Linked DNA regions of Homo sapiens: region 1 is linked to region 2. The links come from fine-mapping of genetic effects on plasma protein levels. Region 2 holds a variant in brackets. A gene starts in the other region. All regions are shown on one strand. Distances are from middle to middle.

Region 1 (4,391 bases), 26 Mb before region 2:
GGCTCCGCACTAGGTAGCTGTGGAATGTTGACAAGGTCGTGTCCCTTCTCTAGGCGTGTTTCCTAAGGGACTGGTGCAGCGGGATGGGAGGGGCGCAGGGTAGGGACCGCTTCCAAGGAGAGAGAGGACAGGCGGGAGGGGCTGATGCAGCTGGTCACTCCGCTGGAGTGGCCAGACTTCGCGGTGCCTAGGGCCGAGTTGAAGAAGAGCATGTAAGTCTGTTGTGGGCCCCTCACCAGCGCTGGGGGGCAGCGAGGTCACTGGGCAAGGATGCTCTGGGAAGTGACCTTGGTGCCCGGGAGGGGAGCACCCTGTTGTGATGCAGGCGGGGCAGCGCGGAGCCGGCGGCGCTGATTTCGCACTCTGGCCGCTAGAGGGCGCTGCCTTTCAGCCAAAGCCGAGTGACCCCCTACCTGCCCCGCGTTGGCCCGCGTCACTCCAGCCATGGGCCATCCAGCGAGCATGGGGGCTAGCCAGGGAAAGTCTAAACTAGGAGGGGAGATGAGGGGGTGCAAAGTTGGGCCTGGTGGGTCCTGGGGACGCAGCATGTACTAGAGCGGCACCTGGCCCTCAACAGAGGGGAGAGCGGGTGGTCGTGAGAAGTCTGGGAATTTTCCGGGCCCACTACACGCCAGGGGCGGGTCTCCCCTCTTAAAACGTTGTGAGCCCCAGCGCGGGCAGGGGGGAGGGTGCCCGTGGAGTTGGCATCCTCATCTTTGATGGTCCCCGGGGCTCCTGAGCTGCGCTGGTGGCCCCAGGGCTCGGTGCCTCTCTCAGGCGACAGCTCACAGACGGCGGGAAACTCTTCCCTCCCGCACCTTCGGAGGCGGTCCTGGAGTCTTGTGGACTCCTGGGTTCAAATCCAAGCTTTGTGTGACCAGCACATTGCTGGACCTCACTCAGCCTCACATTCCTCTTGTGTTTAAAACTACCTCATAGGAATGTGGTGACGGTTAGATGACACATAAAGCTTTGCCAGAGGTTTTCTGGGGAGGGTGGGGACAAGAGGGCAAGGAAGAGTCTCCATTTCCTCTGCCACCGGAGCCCGGATCTAACCTCTCAGAGGAGCTGGAAGGTCAGCTCTGAGCTCCACAAATACCTCTGTATACAGATCTCCCACGACACTGAAAAAGATGCCCAGAAAGATCTCATTTGCAGCTGTGAAGGGGCTTCTTTTTCAATCTCCACAACCCCAACTGCCTTAAAGTAGAACCAGACTTGTTAGTAGACAGAGGTTTGGGCTGGGGGGCCCTTGAAGCTCTTGTCTGAGATCTCAGGCTTCCTGCTCAACACACCAAAGCAGGTGCCTGACATAAAGGCGCCATGGACCTCTTTGGTGGTCTGGGAAGGCATATGGAGTCCCTTCTCAGAACAACATTTAAAAATTAATAAGATACATGGGATAATAAAGGGAACAAATTATGACAAGACAGTTGTCAAAACATTAGAAGAATGTGTGGTAGAGCAGTACACATGCTTCTTTAGATTTGACATCAGCCTAATAACTGTTGTAATTCTGTAGTAGTGCTGAGCGTTAAGGACATTTGGAGAAATCTATAAAAACTGTAATGAGATTTGAAAATATTTGTGTTTTCTATTGATGGCAAATTCTATTGTGGTTCATTGTCTACATTCATAACTGAAGCAAGTGCTGACTTTCAATTAAAGATTAGTGAAAATAAAGATGTATTTTTCCCCCCAATTCACAAATCCCATGAATAAATCTATTCACGGACCTCCAAGAGGTCCATGACGTGAACCACCTAGGACATGAACTTCCCCCGGAGGTGCCTCACAGGGCCAGCTCCAAGCCCCGTGGCACCTCCCGGCTTGTCTCAGGCCAATCCTTGAAGAGCTCCAGCAGATCTAAACTTTGGTAACTTTCCTCTGGTAATTTGAGGAATTCCTCCATTTGAGGAATGTCAGAATGGGGCCAGGATTCCTGAATGCCCATGGAAGAAAAGCGAGCATGCTGGTCTGGCGGGCAGAAATAACCTTCTCCCCAGGCTCCAGAGGGCAGAGGACATTTCCCTCCAAAAGGCAAGTTTCTCAGGGACCTCATGAGAAGCCTGTCCTCACCTGAGCAGTTCTGTCAACCATCCCATCCCTTCACCTGGACCCCAGGTCCCCAGCAGGCCTTTTTACCTCGAGACAGAAGTTCTTCTTTCTTGTTCTCAGACTGGGGGCTCACGTTGAAATGGCTCTCAGTCCTCAGATTGTCCTTGCATCTTGTTAAAACCCTATCTCTCCAGTTTCGTCATTGCTCACACTTTCATAGCTGTTATTATATTCGCTCTTTGAAAACCACAGAATGGGTTGTTAGAAGTCATAGATCTTCCGCCACCCCCACTGTGGATTTTTTTCTCCTTTCTCTCCTGCAACTGGTCCTCCATCTCCTTCTCCTTTCCTCTCCCTTGTTTTGTCTTTTTGGTGTTAGAAATAGACTAGGGTGCTGAGGGGGCTAAGAAAAACCACTTCTTAAAATTCTTTTCTTTACCCTGGGGAACAAAGATTTTGTATTTGCTAATTCATAATAAGGAAAGGACTGATGATAGAATAACTAGAAGATAAAAGGACAGAATGTCCTCTCAAGTATAAAGAAAGGTACCAAGTCTTCTCCTGAGAGTAGGTTTTGGTTAGAAGTAGGACAGAGAACACAGCTGCTCCAGGCTGAAAGGGAAGAAGGTCAGGGAGCTGTCAAGAAGGCTTGGGTGAGGGTGGTGGTGAGCAGGGGAGGCAACGAGTGGGGGCACCAAAATGGTCCTGATGTGGTGGGGGGAGGATGAATGACTGACCTTATCTTCCCACCCACCCATTTTTTTTCTTTTTCTTTTTTCTTTCTTTCCTTTTTTTTTTTTTTTTTTTGAGACAGGGTCTTGCTCTGTCACCAAGGCTGGAGTGCAGTGGGGCAATCATGGCTCACTGCAACCTTGACCTCCTGGGGTCGAGTGATCTTCCCACCTCAGCCCCTCAAGCAGCTAGGACCACAGGTGTACGCCACCACACCTGGATAACTTTTTATTTATTTATTATTTATTTATTTATTTATTTATTTATTTATTTATTTATTTAGAGATGGAGTTTCGCTGTGTCACACAGGCTGGAGTACAGTGGCGTGATCTCAGCTCACTGTAACCTCTGCCTCCTGGGCTCAAGTGATGCTCCTGCCTCAACCTTCTGAGTAGCTGGGATTACGAGAGCCTGCCACCATGCTGGACTAATTCTTGTATTTTTAGTAGAGACAGTTTCATCATGTTGGCCAGGCTGGTCTCAAACTCCTGACCTCAAGTGATCTGCCTGCCTTGGCCTCCCAAAGTGCTGGGATTACAGGCGTGAGCCACCACGCTCGGTTGATAATTTTAAAAATGATTTGTATGGATGAGGTCTCCCTATGCTGCCCCGCCTGCTCTTGAACTCCTGGGCTCAAACAATCCTCTGGCCTTGGCCTCCCAAAGTGCTGGGATTACAGGCCTGAACCACCACTCCCAGCTTCCCATCCATTTCTATTCTGTTCTGTTCTTCCTTGGTCAGTGATGGCTTGGGAGATTACAATTGTTCCTAAATTCTAGGGTTGTGCCCTTAGATGGCAGGAACATTAGTCTGAGAATTAGAAGCATTGGGCTCTAAGTCCTGCAAGGCTGGGCCAGGCCCTGTGCCAAAGGGCACAGCACACCAGGAAGCCCCACGGTTCTGGAGGAACACCTGTCATGATTGCCACCCAGTGCCAGGCTACCCAGGAATTCAAGGGTGGAGGGAGGGTGGGGGAAAATTTTTCATAACTAGTCTAGAGACTCTCTTTTCCTTCTTATTCCTGTTATTGTAGTACTCTGTGGTCCTAAAAACAGTAGGGTGCTCTGGGGTTTGAGAACTCCCAGATGGCTCCACTGAAGCCATCGTCAAATGAGACAGATATTAGAAATATTTCTTCACTCCAAGCCAGGCGCAGTGGCTCACACCTGTAATCCCAGCACTTTGGGAGGCCGAGGCAGGTGGATCACGAGGTCAGGAGATTGAGACCATCCTGGCTAACACAGTGAAACCTGTCTCTACTAAAAATACAAAAATTAGTTGGGCCTGGTGGTGGGTGCCTGTAGTCCCAGCTACTGGGGAGGCTGAGGCAGGAGAATGGTGTGACCCCCCGGGAGGCGGAGCTTGCAGTGAACCGTGATTGCGCCACTGCACTCCAGCCTGGATGCCAGAGTGAGACTGTGTCTCTAAAAAAAAAAAAAAAAGAAAAAAGAAAAGAAATACTTCTTCACTCCATCAAAGTGTTAGCTTTCACTGCAGAATGAGTCCATTCTGGGAGCCTGGGGGTTGGGAACCCATGTTGGGAAGAGGAGTGTCTCACCATCATCCTGGTCACAGGACCAGTCCACCACAGCCCACAGGAT
Region 2 (4,391 bases):
GACACAAAATATTTTGAGACTCATTTAATTATAGCCCACAACTGTCATGGCATTCAACAAATGCAGTTATTCATTAAATATGTACTTGTTGAACATCATGGTACTATTATTGAACATCACAATAATATTTCATTTTTTGCATTAACCCTTAATGGTTACAAAGTGCATCTATAATTAGTGTCACACCTAGGCTTCCTAAGAATCCTTTGAGAAGGGAGAAAGGGATAAAAGCATTACCTACCTTATGAGGATTTGTGAGAATCATACAATAAAAGACAAAAGTGCTTAGCACTGGAAGCTGATGCAGTGTAAACAATCATGAAATGTTACTACTAGCACAGTTATTAGCCCATATTACTGATGATATACCTCACTTCCTCAAGTTTGCACAGTGAAGTAGTAGAATTCAGCTAAGAATCTGTTTCCAGACCCCAAATCTGTCTTAGGAAACTATCAGTTGAGATCGCAATTATGGAAGGCAAAAAAACAGAGCCTTAAAGGGAGAGCAAACATGACAGGTTTTATGGTGGGTGAGTAGGCAGAAGTGTTTAGGGACCTTATGTGCATTGTCAAGTGCTCAGGGGAGAGGGTGAGGCCCAGGCTATGTACCACAGGCAGCTGTACAATTCATTTTTGGTTCCTCAAATGTTCTATCTTCCCTCAGCACCTTCACATAGAATGTGTTCCTTCTCCCCTGTCTTATTCTCTGTCTTCACCTCTCTTCCCAACACTTCACCCAACATTCACGCTTCCAGGCTCAACCCAAACATCTCTTCTTCCAGGATGCTCTCCCTGAGCCCCTGTCTGCACCTACTGACAGGCACTCACAGCACTCTGCATGCCTCCTTTAGAGAATAGTTGTCCAATATTTGTCTTCCCAGCTAGGAGGTAAGCACTGAGAAGTCTGCAACTTTCCCTTGCTTGCCGGCTGATGTCTCCCCAGCAGCAGTGTCCAGCACGTTTGTCAAGTGCGGAGCAGCTGCTGGCCACCTTAAAGATGGAAAGGAACGAGACTGAAAAAAGGGTGGGAAGTCATGAAAACAAATTTAAAATGCTTTACTATTTTGCCCTAGAACCACTCGGGGTGGTGCTATTGGGAAGAGCTAGGCAGTGAGAAAACATAAAGGAGGCAACAGAAAGGAGCGAGAAAAAAGACACAAGAAAGGCATGGAGAAGTCACTTGATGCAAAGAGTAGCAGACATAGGTGCTCATCCTGAAGAAGGCTGGGCCATGGATGCCAAGCCTTCCGCAGACATATGAAAGGTTGCTGAGAATTAGCCGTTTCTCTTTCTTTCAAACTTCCCCTTGTTTATGTCTGCCGTCTTTTGTCAGAAAGAGATGCAGGGGCCCTGCTCTCTCCAGAAGACTAACCCCTGCAGCAGTCCATGGAATCCAGGGCTAAATCTGCTGAGGGGAGAGGGAGGGAGGGAGAGTTTCCACCAGGATGACATATTTCTGACTCTGCCCTCTGACAACAAAGGGTGCCGGTGGTGGGACTTTTGGCAGGAAGCACCCACCTTTGGGGGAGTCAGAATCATGTTGCGGGGTGACAGTGACTGAGGCGGACCCTGGAGCCCTGGCCGTCTTCCCTGCGCGGCCCTAGGCAGCGGTGCCTGGATGATCTCCTGGGCGCCTCCTCCGAGGTTCAGGCAGGGCTGAGGGAGGATGCGATGCCCGAGCTCCGGCAGGGCCCATTTTGTTTATGTTCCCACTCCTTCGCCCTGGGAAGCCCCGAGTTCCCACACTCACTGAGGCAGGAAGGTCACCACGGACACCTCATCTGTCTGGGCCGTTGACTAACTACAGATAAGCAGCAGCTGCCACATCCATGTTGGGGTCACCTCCCAGTCTGCCCACCCTGGAACCAGGGGAGAAGCCCCCATCCCCGCCCACTTGCACATGGTGCCTCCCCAGCAAGGTCAGCTGCCCCTGAGGCCAGGATGGCGACATGGGGCCACAGAAAAACTTGCTTTTGCGGGAGAAGCAAGACATGACTAAGGGATTGAAAGGTCTTAGACATGACTACCCGAGAGCCCAGGCTTATATTTCCACCTTACCTTTTTTTTTTTTTTTAGATGGAGTTTCTCTCTGTCGCCCAGGCTGGAGTGCAGTGGTGCGAACTCTGCTCACTGCAACCTCCGTCTCCCAGGTTCAAGCAATTCTCCTGACTCAGCCTCCCGAGTAGGGATTACAGGCACGCACCCCCACGCCCGGCTAATTTTTGTATTTTTAGTGGAAATTGGGTTTTACCATGTTGGCCTGGCTGATCTGGAACTCCTGACCTCAAGTGATTCGCCCGCCTCGGCTTCCC[A/G]AAGTGCTGGGATTAAAGGCGTGAACCAGGGCACCCAGCCTACCTCACATTTGCTGAGCACTTTAGAGTTTCACAGCGCTCTACTGCCTGCATCTTTTCACATGACTCTGACCACCACCCGTGAAGATCGCAGAGCAGGTGTTTTTGTGTCCATTTTGCAGATGAGTAAACAGCCCCAGGATGTTCGAGACGCTTGCCAAATTCACACAGATAGTGGTAAAAGTCATGTTCACGGGGGCTTTGTGCTACCCCATGCAAACACACCACACCAGCTGAACAATCCCAATTTTTATCCCTAAAAGAGGACTCTTTCTCCCAGGTTTAACCTGTTTTCCACCCAAGCCTGCCGTGTAGTGAGAAACATGGCAGTTTTGGAGTTTGAATCTGATTCCTCTTCTTGTTAACCAAGTGATTTAGCAGTTGTGTATTTGGGACTTGATTTCCCTGAATATTTGCTTCCACATGTATAAAATGCAGATAATGCTGCCTAACTTGAACGGTTGTTGTAAGGTTTAAGAATAACAAGAAACATCTATTCTCTGTTTTCCATACCCTAAGCTTGGTTCTAAGCACCTTATGTTCATTGACTTATTAAATTCTCACAACATGCCTGTATGATTTCATGCATGCTATCATTATTTCATTGTACAGTTGAGGAACAATGGCAGAGAGGTAAAGAAACATACCCCAGGTTACACAGAGAGCAGATGGCAGAGCCAGGATTGCAACCCAGACTACAGAGCCGAGTGTTTAATCTCCAAGCTATATTGACTATGCAAATTATGTTTACTGTCCACAATCGGCACTCAATCAACAGCTATTACTAAGAATTGGGGAAGGGTTTGTTTGAATTACAAGAAAAATGATCAGCTAACTACCTGAACTAATTAGATGAATCAATAGTCCTGTCTACTCAAAAATATTTTCTATGTAGTATTCTGGTTTCTAATTTCTTCCCACTAGATTCATAGCTTTAGAGCACGAAGTCACCCAAGGGACTTTTGGCAATGTCTAGAGACATTTTTGGTTGTCACAAATGTGGGGTGCTACTGGCATCTAACGGGTTAGGCCAGGGATACTGCTAAACATCCTACACAGAAGAGTTCCTCAAAAAAGAATTATCTGGCCCGGAATGTCAATATGCTGAAGTTTAGAAACTACTTTAAAATTGAGTATTTAGAGTTGAGTCATGATTACTTAAGTTTTGAAGTGCCCTGCTGGATCCAAATTTGACACATATACTAATTTGTTTATTCAAATTGGACACATATACCAGTAAAGTAATGCCCTGTTTAATATCTAGTGATACATTAACATGGTTCCTTATATGTGATCATTTGTCATTACTTATTGTTGCTGCTGCTATTGTTACCAAGCAAAGCAGATGTGTGCCCTAGAAATGGTCAGGCTGATTTGGGGTTTGTGGTAGAGTTAGAAAATTGAAGCTGTTTTTCTGTTAAATTACGTTACCAACCTCCAAATTGCTGACATTTCTTCCAATATATTGAAGTAGGTCATAAATAAACTCACAGAAATGCCATTTCCTTTCAGCATACAACTCTATGAATCCCTGGTATCTTTCAGTGCAGTCAGCTCTTGTTTTGTGTGTTATGTACACACCAAACAGATTTTTAAAGTTTAATTTTGTTGGCCCCTTTTGAAAACTCCTGTAGCTAATGACATTTTCAAAATGATAAAAGTTTTATTTTGTCAAACAGAACTTTGACGAACAGAACACCCTTGGTACCCGATGCACGTGTGGCGCATCTGTGATGCCTGGCAGCATACTGAACTTTCTTACTTTGTTGGAAAACACTGCGTGTCACATCATCAACACTGATTTTCATATCATCATGCATTAGCTTCAAAGACTGTGTTTATAATCCTCAAAGGAGTTGTATCAGTCAGTTTTAGCCGGGTTGTGATACAGTAATGGATAATCCCCATATCCTAATAACAAAATAGATTTGTATTTGTTCATGTTACATGTACACCGTAAATTGGCCACTGATTACTTCATGTCTTTTGCATTCTTAATCTAGACTGAAGGAGCTGGCCCTATTTGGGATATGGTAGCAT

Direction of the effects. Alleles are on the strand shown, and positions count from the first base shown. The strength of an association depends on the size of the effect and on how common the allele is.
With allele G in place of A in region 2, the plasma level of the protein whose gene starts at base 2,206 in region 1 is higher (strong association).

The links. PIP is the chance, under the fine-mapping model, that this variant and not a neighbour inherited with it causes the effect. Protein levels are from antibody-based Olink assays in UK Biobank. Linkage for the fine-mapping came from a reference panel and not from the study's own genotypes, which makes the PIPs less certain.
Region 1: it holds the start of CD160, and the variant in region 2 is fine-mapped to the plasma level of the CD160 protein (UK Biobank, PIP above 0.99).

What each region holds. Positions count from the first base shown.
Region 1 is chr1:145,717,314-145,721,704 of GRCh38, reverse strand. It overlaps CD160 (CD160 molecule), which reads right to left and starts at 2,206. Exons shown (of 6, transcript NM_007053.4): 1 at 2,146-2,206.
Region 2 is chr1:120,107,410-120,111,800 of GRCh38, reverse strand. No RefSeq gene overlaps it. Among named protein-coding and RNA genes, the nearest start is that of NOTCH2, 40 kb to the right of the region's middle. The variant A/G (reference allele first, on the strand shown) is at 2,313.